Regions from separate parts of the Homo sapiens genome. Here region 1 is linked to region 2. Evidence: fine-mapped QTL for protein levels in blood plasma. A gene starts in region 2. The other region holds a variant in brackets. All regions are shown on one strand. Distances are between the middles of the regions. Region 1 has its middle 17 kb from the start of CD70. Region 2 holds the start of CD70 (CD70 molecule).

The links. PIP is the chance, under the fine-mapping model, that this variant and not a neighbour inherited with it causes the effect. Protein levels are from antibody-based Olink assays in UK Biobank. Linkage for the fine-mapping came from a reference panel and not from the study's own genotypes, which makes the PIPs less certain.
Region 1: its variant is fine-mapped to the plasma level of the CD70 protein (UK Biobank, PIP 0.93).

Annotation. Positions count from the first base shown.
Region 1 is chr19:6,604,279-6,612,584 of GRCh38, forward strand. No RefSeq gene overlaps it. Among named protein-coding and RNA genes, the nearest start is that of CD70, 17 kb to the left of the region's middle. RefSeq lists an enhancer at 4,730-4,839. The variant C/T (reference allele first, on the strand shown) is at 4,084.
Region 2 is chr19:6,587,092-6,595,363 of GRCh38, forward strand. It overlaps CD70 (CD70 molecule), which reads right to left and starts at 4,059. Exons shown (of 3, transcript NM_001252.5): 1 at 3,750-4,059; 2 at 3,012-3,045. The coding sequence starts at 3,911. It also overlaps the pseudogene RPL7P50. RefSeq lists enhancers at 1-129, 1,231-1,410, 1,701-1,780, 2,959-3,328, 3,829-4,228 and 2 more.

The sequences.
Region 1 (8,306 bases), 17 kb after region 2:
GTAACAGAATTTTGTGCCTCAAGTGCAAATTTCAAGGGGGCATCTCAAACTGTCATTGTCAAAATAAATGATATTCTCAGGCAACATTTTAAAAAAAATCTAAAAAGTGAAGGTCAAAAAAATTCATGATGAACAAATTGCAAAGATGTTTTAAAGATCAGATCCAACCCTACACTTCTACAATCTGCTTCATTTTTTTCCACCTTCATTCTGGTCTTGCAGCCCAAATTTGCATTCTGGCTCCAACACTTACCAGCTGTGTGACCTGCAGCAAGTGATTTAACCTCTCTGTGCCTCAGTTCCCTGGAAGTAATAAAAGTATCTCACAGGCTTGCTATGAGGTTGGAAGGAATTAATATTTGTAAACTGTTTAGCAAAGAGCCAGTACGTAGTAAGGAACTGGTGAGAACTATTACTATCATTGCTACTACTGAAACGGCCTCCTTGTCTGGAGTAACACCCGAGGTTCACAGTCTCACAGCCAAGGAAAACAAGGACATAGACATAGAAAGAGTGAGGTCGAGAATGGAAGTTTCATAGGCGAAAGAAAGAGGAGAGCTCTCTGCTGCAGAGAGGGGTCCCGGAAAAATGGGTTGCCGTATCAGCGGGGAAATGTAGGGGGTTTTATAGAGAAGCTAGTGAGCAAACGGTGTTTGATTTATATAGGGTGTGAAAAACTGGTTAGACCATGTGTCGCATTTGCATAGGGTGCAAATTTCTGGTAGCCTCTGACCCTAATCTTTTATTATGCAGGCAGGTTCTCTGCCCGAGCTGCGCCATGTTGCCCATTTCTGTTACTGCACGCGTGGTAACATAAAAGGGAAGAGGAAGCGTCCATGTAGGGCCTGCCTGGCCCCTGGGTAGCTCTCTTCTATTGGCGCACCTGCCGGCATTCTCCCGTGTAAGCTTCCAGCTGTGCCTATCTATGTTTGCAGCTCAATTTTTCAGGCTGCTGCTTGTTAGAAAAGAAATGATTTGGGGGCTGCTTTTTGTTAGAAGGGAAGCTCTGCCGAGGACTCTGCTGCCTTCACTATCTGCCTAAATAATTTCTTTCTACCTCCTGTATCACTACGACTGTTGCTATTATTAATCTGAGAAAGAGACTCACTCTGTTGCCCAGGCTGGAGTGCAGTGGCCTGGGCTCACTGCAACCTCCGCCTCCCAGGGTCAAGTGATTCTCATGCCTCAGCCTCCCAAGTAGCTGGGACTACAGGAGCCTGCCATTATGCCCAGCTAATTTTTTTGTATTTTTAGTAGAGACAGGGTTTCACCATGTTGGCCAGGCTGGTCTCAAACTCCTGACCTCAAATAATGTGCCCGCCTTGGCCTCCCACAGTGCTGGGATTACAGGTGTGAGCTACTGCGCCCGGCCTCTTATTATTATTTATTTATTATTATTACTGCTTTTGGAGACAGGGTCTTACTCTGTCGCCCAGGCTGGAGAGCAGTGGTGCAATCATAGCTCCCTGCAGCCTCCAGTTCCTGGGCTTGAGTGATCCTCCTGTCTCAGCTTCCTGAGAAGGTGGGACTACAGGCATGCACCACCACACTCAGCTATTTTTTTTTTTTGAGTTGGAGTCTTGCTATGTTGCCCAGGCTAGAGTGCAGTGGTGCAATGTCGGCTCACTGCCAGCTCCGCCTCCCGGGTTCACGCCGTTCTCCTGCCTCAGCCTTCCGAGTAGCTGGAACCACAGGTGCCCGCCACCTCGCCCGGCTAATTTTTTTGTGTTTTTAGTAGAGACGGGGTTTCACTGTGTTAGCCAGGATGGTCTCGATCTCCTGACCTCGTGATCCGCCTGCCTTGGCCTCTCAAAGTGCTGGGATTATAGGCGTGAGCCACCGCGCCCGGCCTCACATTCAGCTAATTTTAAAAGTTTTTGGAGAGATGGGCTCTTGCTATGTTGCTCAGGCTGGTCCTGAACTCTTGGCCTCAAGTGATACTCCCACCTTGGCCTTCCAAATTGTTGGGATTCCAGGCGTGAGCCACCACCCCTGGCCAGACTTTACACAATAAAGGTGTATTTAGGGCTGCTCTGCCTATGGAGTGGCCATTCTTTACTCCTTTACTTTCTGTTTTGTGTTTGTTTGTTTGTTTGTTTGTTTGAGACGGAGTTTTGCTCTTGTTGCCCAGGCTGGAGTTCAATGGCGCGATCTCAGCTCACTGCAACCTTTGCCTCCTGGGCTCAAGTGATTCTCCTGCCTCAGCCACCAGAGTAGCAGAGATTACAGGTGCCTGCCACCACACCCGGCTAATTGTTTGTATTTTTAGTAGACATGGGGTTTCACCATTTTGGCCAGGCTGGTCTCGATCTCCTGACCTCAGGTGATCTGCCCCCCTTGGCCTCCCAAAGTGCTGGGATTACAGCTGTGAGGCTAACACTCCTGGCCTATTCCTTTACTTTCTTACTAAACTTATTTCACTTAAAAAAAAAGTTTATTTTCTACTCACACAACATTCAGATCAGCAAGGGGTTCTGCCCATGGTAGGCTGAAATAGGCTTCTTCCTTTTTTTTTTTTTTTTTTGTTGAGACAGGGCCTCACTCTGTTGTTCAGGGTGCAGAGCCGTAGCACAATCTCGGCTTAATGCAACTTCTGCTTCCTGGGTTCAAGTAATCCTCCTATTTAGTCCCCCAAATAGCTGGGACCACAGGTGCACGGCACCATGCCCGACTAATTTTTTTTTTTTCATTTTCAACAAGTGTTTTGTCACCAAACATTAAAAACCTACACAAAATACAGGCCAGGTACAGTGGCTCACGCCTGTAATCCCAGAACTTTGGGAGTCCGAGGCGGGCAGATCACCTGAGGTCAGGAGTTCGAGACCAGCCTGGCCAACATGGTGAAACTCCCTCTCTACTAAAAATTCAAAAATTAGCCAGGCGTGGTCATGTGCAATTGCAGTCCCAGCTACTCAGGAGGCTGAGGCTTGAGAATTGCTTGGACCTGGGAGGCGGAGGTTGCAATGAGCTGAGATCATGCCACTGCACTCCAGCCTGGGTGACGAGAGCCAGACTTCATCTCAAAAAACAAAAATATATACAGAATACAAAGATAGTATAATAGACTTGTCACCCAGGTTGAACAGCTACTAGTCATGCCATGTTTGCTTCATCTATACTTTGACCCATTTCCTACCCCCCAATTTATTAGTTTTTTGGGTTTTCTTTTTAGATAAAATGTATACATATTGAAAGGTACAATCTGAACTGTACCATTTTGACAAATTAATACACTCATATAGACTTCCCCCCTTTAAAGAATAGAATTACTCCACTTACTAATCATTAATGTACATATAAGTTACGTCGAAGTAGTATTTACAATCCAAATTTTTATAAAATAGGTCAGAGTTTTGACTGAGAATTTTTTTTTTTTTTTGAGACCGAGTCTTGCCCTGTTGCCCAGGCTGGAGTGCAGTGGTGCAATCTTGGCTCACCGCAACCTCTGCCTCCCAGGTTCAAGCGATTCTCCTGCCTCAGCCTCCCGAGTAGCTGGGATTACAGGCTTGCGCCACCTCGCCTGTCTAATTTTTTGTGTTTTTAGTAGAGATGGGGTTTTGCCATCTTTGCCAGGTTGGTCTTGAACTCCTGACCTTCTGATCCACCCACCTCAGCCTCCCAAACTGCTGGGATTACACGCGTGAGCCACCGCGCCTGGCCGAGAATTTTTATTTTTAAAAAAGTAGAGATCTGTAGAGCACACAGTAACTACAATGTCTATTTATCTCAAGTAAATACAGTTTGATGAATAAAATTAAGGAAAATTCACCTAAGATGAAAAAAAAACAATCAAACCATCTGTGCAATATGCTATCTGTAGGAGCATTTGGTTAAGAATAACAAACTAACCCAACAATTTTATTATTTTAATAACCAAAATTGGCACAAATTTCTACTATTGTTTTCATAGAAATGCTCCCTCACAATAAAAAAATTTTCATATCATGAGAGCAAAAACAGCAAATATTTGAAAAAGTAGATGTCTTATAAAATTAAGTAGCAAAGGCCAGGCGCAGTGGCTCATGCCAGTAATCCCAGCACTTCGGGAGGCCGAGGCGGGAGGATCACCTGAGGTCAGGGGTT[C/T]GAGACTAGCCTGGCCAACATGGTGAAACCATATCTCTACTAAAAATTCCAAAATTAGCCAGACGTGGTGGCGGGCAGGAGAATCGCTTGAATCTGGGAGACAGAGGTTGCAGTGAGCCGAGATCTTGCCACTGTACTCTAGTTTGGGTGACAAGAGCAAAACTCCATCTCAAAAAAAAAAAAGAAAAATCACAGTTACCTATAATTCGATCATTCAATCAATCATCAGATAACTCAGCTCATTCAATTATCTGCAAGTGTAGATAATTCTCATAGCTTCCTATTAAAATTATGTTTTATGCCCTTACAAATTTTAACTTAGTTTTTCTTTTATTTATTTATTAGTAGGAGTCTCACTCTGTCGCCCAGGCTGGAGTGCAGTGGCACAATCTTGGCTCTCTGCAACCTCCACCTCCTGGGTTCATGCAATTCTCCTGCCTCAGCCTCCTGAGTAGCTGACATTACAGGCATGAGGCACCACACCCAGCTAATCCCACAGTGCAGGGATTAGAGGCATAAGCCACCTCCCCCTCCTACTTTTTCTTCTTACTTGGTCCGAGGGCTGTGGGACGGGGCCCCACCCCAGCCCATCACCAGAGACTTTTGGTCTTGGCCATGTGTCCTAAGACTTAATAGTTCTTGCACATTCTCTTGGTAATCAATTCAATTTGTTTCTTCCAAATCTTGCAGTAAAACTGATGTTCCAGCCAGGCGCTGTGGCTCATGCCTAGACGGTTTTCATCTTGACATGACCCTTGTGCTAGGAGTGTAAAGTAGAAAACCACAGATGGATACACATCATTGCCAGTCCCTTTTCACTAACCAAAGCGTGTCAGTGACCCTGCTTAACTTTAGTGGGTGCAGGGAAGTGGCATGCTTGCAAGAGTCAGAAAGAAAGCTGAAAATACTAGGTGGAGAACACGAATCGCTATCAAAACCCACCCATTTGATCACAGAAACTCAGCTCATGCTCCTTCCTGCTTGCAAAATACAGTCACCCCTCCAAGAGAGAACTCCATAGTCCCACCTGTAATGGCATCAAGCCTCTTTTTCTTTCCATGTGGTCTGTGATCATTCAGTAGCCTAGCCAAGCTTTTTTTTTTTTTTAAAATTACTGAACATATATTTCTGAGTTCCTGCTGTTTCCAAGGTATTAATACAATAGTGCAGAAATCAAAGTTCCTACCCTCTTGGAGATTGCATTTGATGAGTTCCCATTTGTGTCAGGCCAACTTTCTTGCATTCTGTTTTTATTTTAAAAATAAATATGGTCTCAAAAAACAAACAAAAACAACAGCAACAAAATGGTCTCAGTTAATATTCCAACAGCCCTGGGAGATAAGTAGTATTATCTTGAGATGCCTTTTGTGAATTTTCAGCAACAACTAGAATTTTAAAAACAATCCATAGATATTTCCATAACGTACGTATATGAAAGGACACAGTGAACAATGATAAGAAAACTTAGGTTTTAAAAAGGTTAAGTACCTTATTAAAGGTAAAAGCTGGCCAGGCGTGGTAGCTCACGCCTGTAATCCCAAAACTTTGGGAGGCTGAGGCAGGCTGATCACTTGAGGTCAGGAGTTCGAGACAAGCCTGGCCAACATGGTGAAACCCTATCTCTACTAAAAATACAAAAATTAGCCAGGCATGGGGGCGGGTGCCTGTAATCCCAGCTACTTGGGAGGCCAAGACATGAGAATCACTTGAAACCAGGAGGCGGAGGTTGCAGTGAGCTGAGATCGTGCCACTGCACTCCAGCCTAGGTGACAGAGTGAGACTCTGTCTCAAAAAGAAAAATAAATAAATAAATAAAAATAAATAAATAAAGCAAAGCCAAAATTCAAAACTCAAACTTTATTTTGACTCCAGAGTTCCTTTTATACAATACCTTTTCCTCTGAAGTCATGCCCCAGCTGATATCACAGTCAAAATACATTTTAAAGGATGAGTGGGACAGAGGTGTAATGGGGAAAAGGTACTAGTCAAAACTTTTTAAAAAATAGGCTTTTATGGGTGTGGTGGCTCATGCCTGTAATCCCAGCAACTTGGGAGGCTGAGGCAGGAGAATTGCTTGAACCTGGGAGGTGGAGGTTGCGGTAAGCCAAGATCGCTCCATTGCACTCCAGCCTAGGCAACAAGAGTGAAGCTCCGTCTCAAAAAAAAAAAAAAAAAAAAAAAGTCTTTTTAGAGCAGTTTTAGTTTCGCAGCAAAATTGAGCAGAAAATACAAAAAGTTCCCACACACCCCTAGAGCCCCCTGCTCCACAAACAATCCCATTGTTAACATCCCACCGCACCCGGCCGGCTCTGTGTATTTGTCTTCACTTTTTTCCCCTGCTTCTTGGATTTGCTAACTTTATGGTTGCCTTATCTTCAAGTTTGTTGATCTTTTTTCTACCTACTCAAATCTGTTCTTGAATTCGTCTAATGAATTATCACCTCCATTATTGTAACTTTCAGCTCCAGAATTCCTGTTTGTGAATTTTTAATAATTTATTTCTTTCTATTGACATTCTCACTTCTTTCATATATCATTCTCATGATCTGCTTTAGTTCTTTGTCCATATTTTCCTTCATCTCACTGAACACATTGGAGACAGTTGATTTAATGTCTTTGACTAATAGTTTCAATGTGTGGGCTTCCCTAGTAACAGTATATGTTAAATCATGGTTTATTGTAAATGAGTTATACTTTCCTATGTCTTTATGCTTTGTAATTACAACTGGACATCCTGAGTATTATGATTCATAAGTCTGGAACTCCGATGCTCCAAGTCTTCATGGATTGCTGATTTCTGCTTACTGAAGGCTGAAACTATTCATTTCTGACTTTTCCCGACTGTTTTTTGGCAACTGTGTATCCTTTGGGTGTGATCACTGAAGTGTCTTTTCCATTTTGTGGTCAGTTAGTAACATGACAAAGATTTTACAAGGCATCGAACCTCTAAGTCTGAGGGATACGAAGGGACTCAAGAGAGCCAAAACAAGCATCTTATTGGCTTCTCAGGAATTGCCAGACCTAGTAGAGTGCAAATTCCCCAAATTTTGGAGGCCAAGGTCTCAACTGCCTGCTCTGGCACTGGTCACCTGTTTGAGGAAAATGGACTGTCTCCAAATTGCCCCACTCGGACGGAGGAATGGGGAGTGGGGGCTGGTTTGTGAAGGCTGTTCTCTTTCTAAAGTCTCAGTCTCTCTTTTCATCAAGCACTCCTCTCATTATTATAAGTGCTGCAACAGGATGACTAGTTCTGAAATCATTGATTCTGTGTCTCCTGCCCCTCAGTTCACTGTTTATTTCACTGGAGGGAGGGGCTCCCAGAGCTTTCTACTCCGTCTTTTTGCTTGATCTCACTGTTTGCTGACTTTCTGAGATATGCCCAAACTCATATGGCTATTGGAAATTTCCACATTAAAAGTACTTCACCACATTGGGCAACATGGTGAAATCCTGTCTCTACAAAAAAGAAAAATACAAAAATTCCTTGGGTGAGGTGGCACACTCCCGTAGTCCCAGCTACTTGAGAGGCTGAGGTGGGAGAATCGCTTGAGACCGGGAGGCAGAGGTTGCAGTGAGCCGAGATCGCACTACTGCACTCCAGCCTGGGTGACAGAGTGAGGCTCTGTCTCAAAAAAAAAAAAAAAAAAAAAGGTACTTGACATGATAGTTTCCAATAAAAACATTTTAACCTAATTCCTTCATTTCACTCTTTAGCAATCAATATGTGAAAATTATATTGAACTGGTAAAAATGCAGGTTACAAAGATAAGATAAATATGAAATGCTATGATACACTTCTGACCACTGGAAGACATAAGAGAGAGTTGCAATGATTATATTTAATATTTTGGTTAGTAAACAGAGAGAACGCATCTACCCAGGGATTCAGTAGGGGTATGTGAAGATTTAATAAGGTAAGTAATCCTTAGTTTTTGAGAAACCAGAGATAGAAAATATGTTGGTGATTTTTTTTTTTTTTTGAGATGGAGTCTGGCTCTTTTCGCCCAAGCTGGACTGCAGTGGTGTGCTCTCAGCTCACTGTAACCTCTGCCTCCCGGGTTCATGCCATTCTCCTGCCTCAGCCTCCTGAGTAGCTGGGATTATGGGTGTGTACCACCACACCTGGCTAATTTTTTTTCTTTTTTGAGACGGAGTCTTGCTCTCTTGCCCAGGCTGGAGTGCAGTGGCGTGATCTCGGCTCACTGCAAGCTCCGTCTCCCAGG
Region 2 (8,272 bases):
GGACGAGAGAGCTTGAGGGAGAGTGCACGAGAGAGTGCGAGAGAGCACGAGAGAGCAGGAGAGAGTGCAAGAGACAGCATGAGAGAGAGAGAGATCATGAGGGAGAGAGAGCATGAGACAGCGAGAGAGTGTGAGAGAGAGGACGAGAGAGCTTGAGGGAGAGTGCACGAGAGAGTGAGAGAGAGCACGAGAGAGCAGGAGAGAGTACGAGAGACAGCATGAGAGAGAGAGCAAGAGAGAGAGTGTGTGTGTGAGAGAGGACGAGAGAGCTTGAGAGAGAGTGCACGAGACAGAGTGTGAGAGTGAGCTCGAGAGAGTGCATGGGAGAGTGTGTGTGTGAGAGAGGATGAGAGCTACAGAGCTCGAGAGTGCACGGGAGTGAGCGAGAGAGTGCCTGAGAGAGTGAGACAGACAGCACGAGAGAGACAGCGTGCGCACGAGACAGCGCGCAAGAGAGTGCACGAGAGAATTCCCCAAGGGACGCCTGCTCGGGTCACACCCTGAACGCCAATAAAAGCTTTGGCTCCCAGGACCCTTTTTTTTTCTTGCTTTCCACCCGCTGGTTGAGTGTGTGTCTCAGAGAGCTCCCCTACCTTCCCGTTGGCCCTCTTCTCTCTAGGATCTTTATTTTCTTTAGAGACAGGGTCTGGTCCTGTCACCCAGGCTGGAGTGCAGTGGTGCAATCATAGCTCACTGCAGCCTCAGCCTCTGGGGCTCAAGCTATCTCCCACCTCAGCCTCCCGAGTCACTGGGAGGTGGCATGCGCCACCATGACCAGCTAATTTTCAAAATTTTGTTCTAGAGATGGTGGTCTTGCTATGTTTCCCAAGAAACATAGTCTAGAACTCCTGGGCTCAAGCGATCCTCCCACCTCAGCCTCCCAAAGCGCTGGGATCACAGCCGGGAGCCAAGGTCCTCGGCTATATTTCACGTGTTTCATCTCAGCGTCTCCTGTCTCCGCAACTTATCTGACTGACACACCTGAGCCTCACTCTCCTCCTCACTCAAGGCTCTCCTGGAGACTGGCTATCTTGTTAGGAAGGAACTGAACGGGGTCAAACAGGAGCCCCAAGGGTGTTTACCAGGCTTTGCAAATTTCCTGTAAGAGTGACACCTGGTCCCCTGTCACACACTTAGGCATGATATCATCCACCAGAAGAAAGAGCTGTCCTGTGAAAGACACTGTCAACACCTGTGGCCACCACCCCTGGTGCCCCATCGATGTGGGGCTGGACAGCCACTCTCCAGAAAGGGGCCTCAAGACCAAATTACAGGAAAAATATGGCAAAGGCCGGGGAGGGGGGGAAGATATATCAGGGGTCAGAGACCCAAGGAGAAGAGAGAGCAACAAAGGTCCCTTCCATTACAAAATGGAAGGAACAAAACACGCAAGCGTGCAGTAATTTTAGTCTCTGGGGATGAACCGTGGAAAAACAGAAGAGGAAGAAGCGTTCGAGAGAGGCTGGGAGGAGGTAGAGACTTCCACCTAGAGCAGAACTGTTCATTTCTTCTCCCTCAAGGCTTCTTGCCAATGCCACCCACTCAGATACCACCCCCCCACCCGACCGCCGCGACTCCACTTTAAATGAAAATCCCCAACCCTGGCATGCCCGGATTCCCCACCCACCTCCTTGCCTGATTTTTTCTCTAAAACCTGCTCTTGGCCTGTTTTACTCTACGTGGCATTGCTCTGTTTTTCACATGTTCGTTTTTATTTTTTTGGTCATCTCCTCCTCGGTAGGAGTGATAGTAGAAGGGAAGCTCACCAGGCAGGGATTTCTGTCTGTTTTGTGCGCGACTGCAGTACCGGAACAGTGCCTGCCCACTGCAGATGTATAATTAGTGCTTGTAGCATGAATGGAGGAAGGGTAGCCTTTCCTGTGAGCGTTTTCGTTTACTAACAAAACCCCTTTGATTCTTCCAAGGGAGGAGATCGAATGTGAAGGACTGAGAGGGAAAGGGAGAGAAAGGTAGTGGATGCCCAGAAACACAAACCTGCTCGCTCTCTCTCTCCTCTCTCTCTCTCTCGTTCTCTCCCTTTTCCTTTTTCTCTTGGGAATGATCTCTTTCTCCCCCGCCCTGTTTTTCTTCTTCCCCCTCTCTGTCTCTGTCTCTTCCTCTCTGTTATTCTCCTTCTCTTTTCCTCTCTCTGGCTTTCTTTCTTTTCTTTCTCTTATTTCTTTTTTTCTCTTTCTTCTTTCTTTTTCCTTTCTCTCTCTCTCACCTCCCTCCCTCTCTCCTTCCTTCCTTCTTCTCTTTCTTTTCCTTCCTTCCTTTCTTTCTTTTTCTTTTCCTTTCTTCTTTTTATTTATTTATTTGACAGAATCTCCCTCTGTCACCCAGGCTGGAGAGCAGTGCCATTATCTTGGCTCACTGCAACTTCTGCCTCCCAGGTTCAGGCGATTCTCCTGCCTCGGCCTCCTGAGTAGCTGGGATTACAGGTGCCTGCCACCACACCCGGCTAATTTTTGTAATTTTAGTAGAGACGGGGTTTCACCATGTTGGCCAGGCTGGTCTCAAACTCCTGGGCTCAAGTGATCCACCCGCCGCGCCCTCCGAAAGCGCTGGGATTACAGGCTCCAGCAACCACGCCAGGTCGCCTCTCTCGTTTTTATTCTCTCTTCCTCTATCTGTCTTTTTTCTCTTTCTCCGTCTCTCTCCCTCTCTCTCGTTCTGTCTCCCCCGCCTGTCTCCCTCCCTCCCTCTTCCACTCTCCCTGCGTCTCTCCCTGTTTCTTTCTTTCCCCTTCTTCTCCTGTCCCGTCTGTCCCCTCTGTCCCTCTCTCTGTTCTTTTTTCTGTCTCTCCCTCCCTTTCTCTGGGCCTCTCCCTCCCTCTCTGTCTTCTCTCTGTCTCCCCCTCTCCGTTTCCCTCCCTATCTCTCCCTCCCTCTCTCCCTCCGTCTCTGTCTGTGTCTCTTTCTCTCTGTCTCTCCCCACTTGTCTTTCTACCTCTCCTTCCTTCTCTCTCTGTGCCTCTTCTTCTCCCCGTCCCTCCACGTCCCCCGTGTTACCTGTGTGATTCAGCTGCAGCTCAGCTACGTCCCACTGGAAGAAAAGACCAGAAAACAGGGCACGGACGTAAGCAGAGAGGTTCTATGTGTCCCCTGTGCCAGGAGCTCTCTTTTCTCTGTCCATCCTCCTTTCCACCTCTCATCCCACGGCGCGCACTGGTGATTTTATTTCATTTTATTTTTTTTTACTCTTAAGACTTCTTAAAGAGGAAGCAGGTCTGAACCAGCGGGGAACGTGAAGTCGAGACCTTCAAAAGAACTTCTTCGTTTCCCGAATCGTTTTCCTGGATGTCACTGGGCGCGAGAGCACCGCGCGCAGCGGACTCTCTACGCTGCAAAGGCGCCCGGCGCGGTCCCCAAAGGGACCCCTCCCCCACCCGGAGCGAGTGGCTGGGGCCATCCCGTCCTAGGAGGCCCCAGGAAGCCCCCACGCCCAGCCTTGTGAAGCCCCCAGCAGCCTCTGAGTCAGCCTGCCGGGGGAACACCAGAGCCGAGTCATCTTCCATTTCCATGTGTGCCTACCTTTCCCATCCCGGGATCTCCCTGTACCTCCTGGCAGGGCTGCCTGTCTCGTAGCCCCTACACCGGGCAGCCTGGTCCCCGCCTCGCCTCCCTGTTCTGGTCTCTGTCTCTGCCCTACCAGATCTTCCTCTCTGGCCTCTTTGTACCCATCTCATTCTGTCTTTTCGGTCACGCGCCTCTCTATGTTTTCTTCCCAACTTTTCCATCTCAACTCACCCCAAGTGACTCGAGCGGCAGCTGCTGCTGAGCCTGTGCGAAGCGCTGGATGCACACCACGAGGCAGATCACCAAGCCCGCGACCAATGGGACCAAAGCAGCCCGCAGGACGCACCCATAGGGCCTGCGCCGCACCGAGCAGCCCGAACCCTCCTCCGGCATCGCCGCGGCGATCACCTCCGCTAGCGCAGGAGGGGCGATGGGGGCGCGGAGCGCTGCCGAGAAGGAAGGAAGGAAACTGCAGCCCCCTCCCGGGGCTCCTGGGCGTCTACTTGCTTCAACCTGTCAGGGGACCAGCCTGCCCCTCTCTGGGGATGTCCGGCCGGTCGAGGGGAGGGACTTGAGCAATTGGCGAGGGGAAATTCCCTCCAACCGCTGCCAGTCTGAAGATCCTAAAGTGGGTGGAGGCAGTTGCCAGGATGCAGGCAGTGGCCCCGGGTGAGCCTCAGAGTTGCCTGCCCCCAACCCCTCCCCGCCCGACCTTCAGGCAGGAGACATTCAATCTTCCTATTCCCCTCTCCACCTCATTCTTCTGGGGCCCATTCATTTATTCAACAAACCTCCACTGCACATTTATTAGGGATTAGATTGTGCTGTGCACTGGGGATACAGCAGACATCCAAGAATTGGGGGTGCTCCCCAAATATTCGTGTACCCCTCTCCTGCATTTTTTTGATTTGTTTTGTTTTTGAGACGGAGGTCTCCCTCTGTCACCCAGGCTGGAGTGCAGTGGCGCCATCTCAGCTCGCCGCAACCTCGATCTCCTGGGTTCAAGCGATTCTCCTGTCTGAGCCTCGCGAGTAGCTGGGAGTAACATGCGCGCGCCACCATGCCTGGCTAATTTTTTGTATTTTTAGTAGAGATGGGGTTTCACCATGTTGGCCAGGCTGGACTTGAACTCCTGACCTTGGGTGATCCACCCGCCTTGGCCTTCCAAAGTGCTGGGATTAAAGGCATGAGACACTGCACCCGGTCAGTTATCTCCTGCATTCTTGGAGACCACCTGCTTTTTTGTTTAAAGTTAAATTAAGTTAATATTTTTATTTTTTATTTTTATTTTATTTTATTATTTATTTTTTTTTTTTTTGAGACAGAGTCTCGCTCTGTCGCCCAGGCTGGAGTGCAGTGGCGCCATCTCGGCTCACTGCAAGCTCCGCCTCCCGGGTTCACGCCATTCTCCTGCCTCAGCCTCTCAAGTAGCTGGGACTACAGGCGCCCGCCACCACGCCCGGCTAACTTTTTGTATTTTTAGTAGAGATGGGTTTTCACCATGTTAGCGAGGATGGTCTCCATCTCCTGACCTCGTGATCTGCCCGCCTTGGCCTCCCAAAGTGCTGGGATTACAGGCGTGAGCCGCCGCGCCCGGCCTAAATTAATATTTTTAGAGACAGAGTGTTGCTCTGTTGCCCAGGCTGGATGCAGTGGCGCCACACAGCTCACAGCAGCCTCAAACTCCTGGGCTTCAGTGACCCTCCCATCTCAGCCTTTTGCATAGTTGGGTCTACCAGCACACGCTACCATGCCCGGCTAATTTTTTTTTTGGGGGGGGTAGAGGATAGGGTGTTACTATGTTACCAGGCTGGTCTCAAACATCTGGGCTCAAGCGATCCTGCTGCGTAGGTCCCCCAAAGTGCCGGGATGACAGGTGTGAGCCACCGCATCCAGCCTCCTGCTGCTGTTCTCGATGGCTGTAGTGGGTTAACGGTGTCCTCCCAGAATTCATGGCCTCCTGGAACTGCAGAATATGACCTCATTTTGAAATTACGGGGTTTTTTTTGCAGATATAATTAGGCTTAAATGAGGTCATACTGGATTAGAGTGGGCCCTCAGGTGGAGAGAAAAGAGGCTCATAGAGAAGGAGCCGTGTGAAAACAGAAACAGAAACTGAATGAGGCAGATGAAAGTCAAGAAACACCAAGAAGGAGCCAGGCGCAGTGGCTCACGCCTGTAATCCCAGCACTTTGGGAGGCTGAGGCAGGCGGATCACTTGATATCAGGAGTTTGAGACCCTCCTGGCTAACACGGTGAAACCCCCGTCTCTACTAAAAATACAAAAAATTAGCCGGGCATGGTGGCGGGCGCCTGTAGTCCCAGCTACTCAGGAGGCTGAGGCAGGAGAATGGCGTGAACCCGGGAGGTGGAGCTTGCAGTGAGCCGAGATCACGCCACTGAACTCCAGCCTGGGTGACAGAGTGAGACTCCGTCTCAAAAAAAAAAAAAAAAGAGTTGGAGACCAGCCTGGCCAACATGGTGGAACCCCATCTCTACTAAAAATTCAAAAAATAGCTGGGTGTGGTGGTGGGCACCTTTAATCCCAGCTACTCAGGAAGCTGAGGCAGGAGAATCGCTCAAACCCGGGAGGCAGAGGTTGCAGTGAGCCGAGATCACACCATTGCACTCCAGCCTGGGTGACAGAGCGAGACTCTGTCTTAAAAATATATATATTTTTTAAAAAGAGGATCCAGCCTCTTTTTCCGGCTGGAACCATGGAGGGTGTAGAAGAGAAGAAGAAGGAAGTTCCCGCTGTGCCAGAAACCCCTAAGAAAAAGCGAAGGAATTTCACAGAGCTGAAGACCAAGCGCCTGAGAAAGAAGTTTGCCCAAAAGATGCTTCGAAAGGCAAGGAGGAAGCTTATCTATGAAAAATTGAAGCACTATCACAAGGAATATAGGCAGAGGTACAGAACTGAAATTCGAATGGAAAAGATGTCAAGAAAAGCTGGCAACTTCTATGAACCTGCAGAATCCAGACTGGCGTTTGTCATCAGGATCAGAGGTATCGATGGTGTGAGCCCAAAGGTCCGAAATGTGTTGCAGCTTCTTTGCCTTTGTCAAATCTTCAATGGAACCTTTGTGAAGGCCAATTAACATGCTGAGGATTGTAGAGCCATACATTGCATGCGGGTACCTAAATCTGAAGTCAGTAAATAAACTAATCTACAAGCGTGGTTATGGCAAAATCAATAAGAAACGAATTGCTTTGACAGATAACGCTTTGCACGATCTCTTGGAAAATATGGCATCATCTGTATGGAGGATGTGATTCATGAGGTCCATACTGTTGGAAAACGCTTCAAAGAAGCACATAACTTCCTGTGGTCCTTCAAAGTATCTTCTCCATGAGGCAGAATGAAGAAACAGACCACCCATTTCGTGGAAGGTGGAGATGCTGGCAACAGGGAGGACCAGATCAACAGGCTTGTTAGAAGAATGAACTATGGTGTGTACTATAATTATTTTTCTAAGCTGTTCAATAAACATTACCTGCTCTCAAATGGAAAGAAAAATATGTCTGTATATACATACAGTTAGGGTCCCAAGGGCCTCTGGCTATGAATCATCAAGAAGTCAGTGTCATCAGCAGCAAACTCACAGCCAACAGCGCTAGAACTCGTGCCTGGGGATAGCTTCTCTAACACGTGGATTTCCTCCTCTGTGAGGCTCATCACGGCCTCCTTGCTCTTGGGGGACATTAGACAGGGCTTCAGCACTATTTGGGGGCTGTTTGAAACAGCAAAATTACCAACAAAAAGCAAAAAATTGAAAGGAGATAAAAATGGGAGATTTCAGAGCCTGAGCCTATAGCATTTGCTGGGTGGGTGAAGAGGGTGGTCAAAGAGGTCCAGAATTTTGAGGTATCCAGAAATCAAAATATCCTCCCTGAGATCCCCAAGTACTAAAGGGATTTCCTTCACGGAAGCCCTAGGACTCCAGGTCTGGGGGAAGCGGGTAGACAGCACCTTCAAGACAATCTCCTACCTTAATTTATTTAATATTTACTTAGCTGATCTTTTTATCAGCTTAAGATATAAATAGTTTAGATTCATATCATTAAGAAATAACTAATACCTTCTAAAAGATGGGGGAAAGAGAGATGGGGTGGGGTGGCTCATACATGTAATCTCAGCACTTTGGGAGGCCGAGGTGTCTTAGGAAAATCCCAAAATGAGACAGGAGCAGCCAACTCATAAAAATAAATACAACTGCTTGGCCGGGCGCAGTGGCTCACACCTGTAATCTCAGCACTTTGGGAGGCCGAGGCGGGCGGATCACAAGGTCAGGAGTTCAAGCCCAGCCTGGCCAATATGGTGAAACCCCGTCTCTACTAAAAATACAAAAATTAGCTGGGCGTGGTGGCGGACACCTGTAGTCCCAGCTATCTCGGGAGGCTGAGTCAGGAGAATCGCCTGAACCCGGGAGGCGGAGGTTGTCGTGAGCTGAGATCTGGCCACTGCACTCCAGCCTGAGAGACAGAGAGAGAGTCTGTCTTAAAAAAATAAATAAATAAAAAAAATACAACTGCTTATGAAACTGAATCTCGTTCACCACAAGAAAATTGGAAATTGAAAGCTCCGTGAAACACAATTTTTCTTTCTCTCTCTCTCTCTCTTTTTTTTTTTAAGATCGTGTCTCCCTCTGTCGCCCAGCTTGGAGTGCAGTGGCGCCATCTCGGCTCACTGCAATCTCCGCCTCCCAGGTTCAAGCAATTCTCCTGCCTCATCCTCCTGAGTAGCTGGGATTACA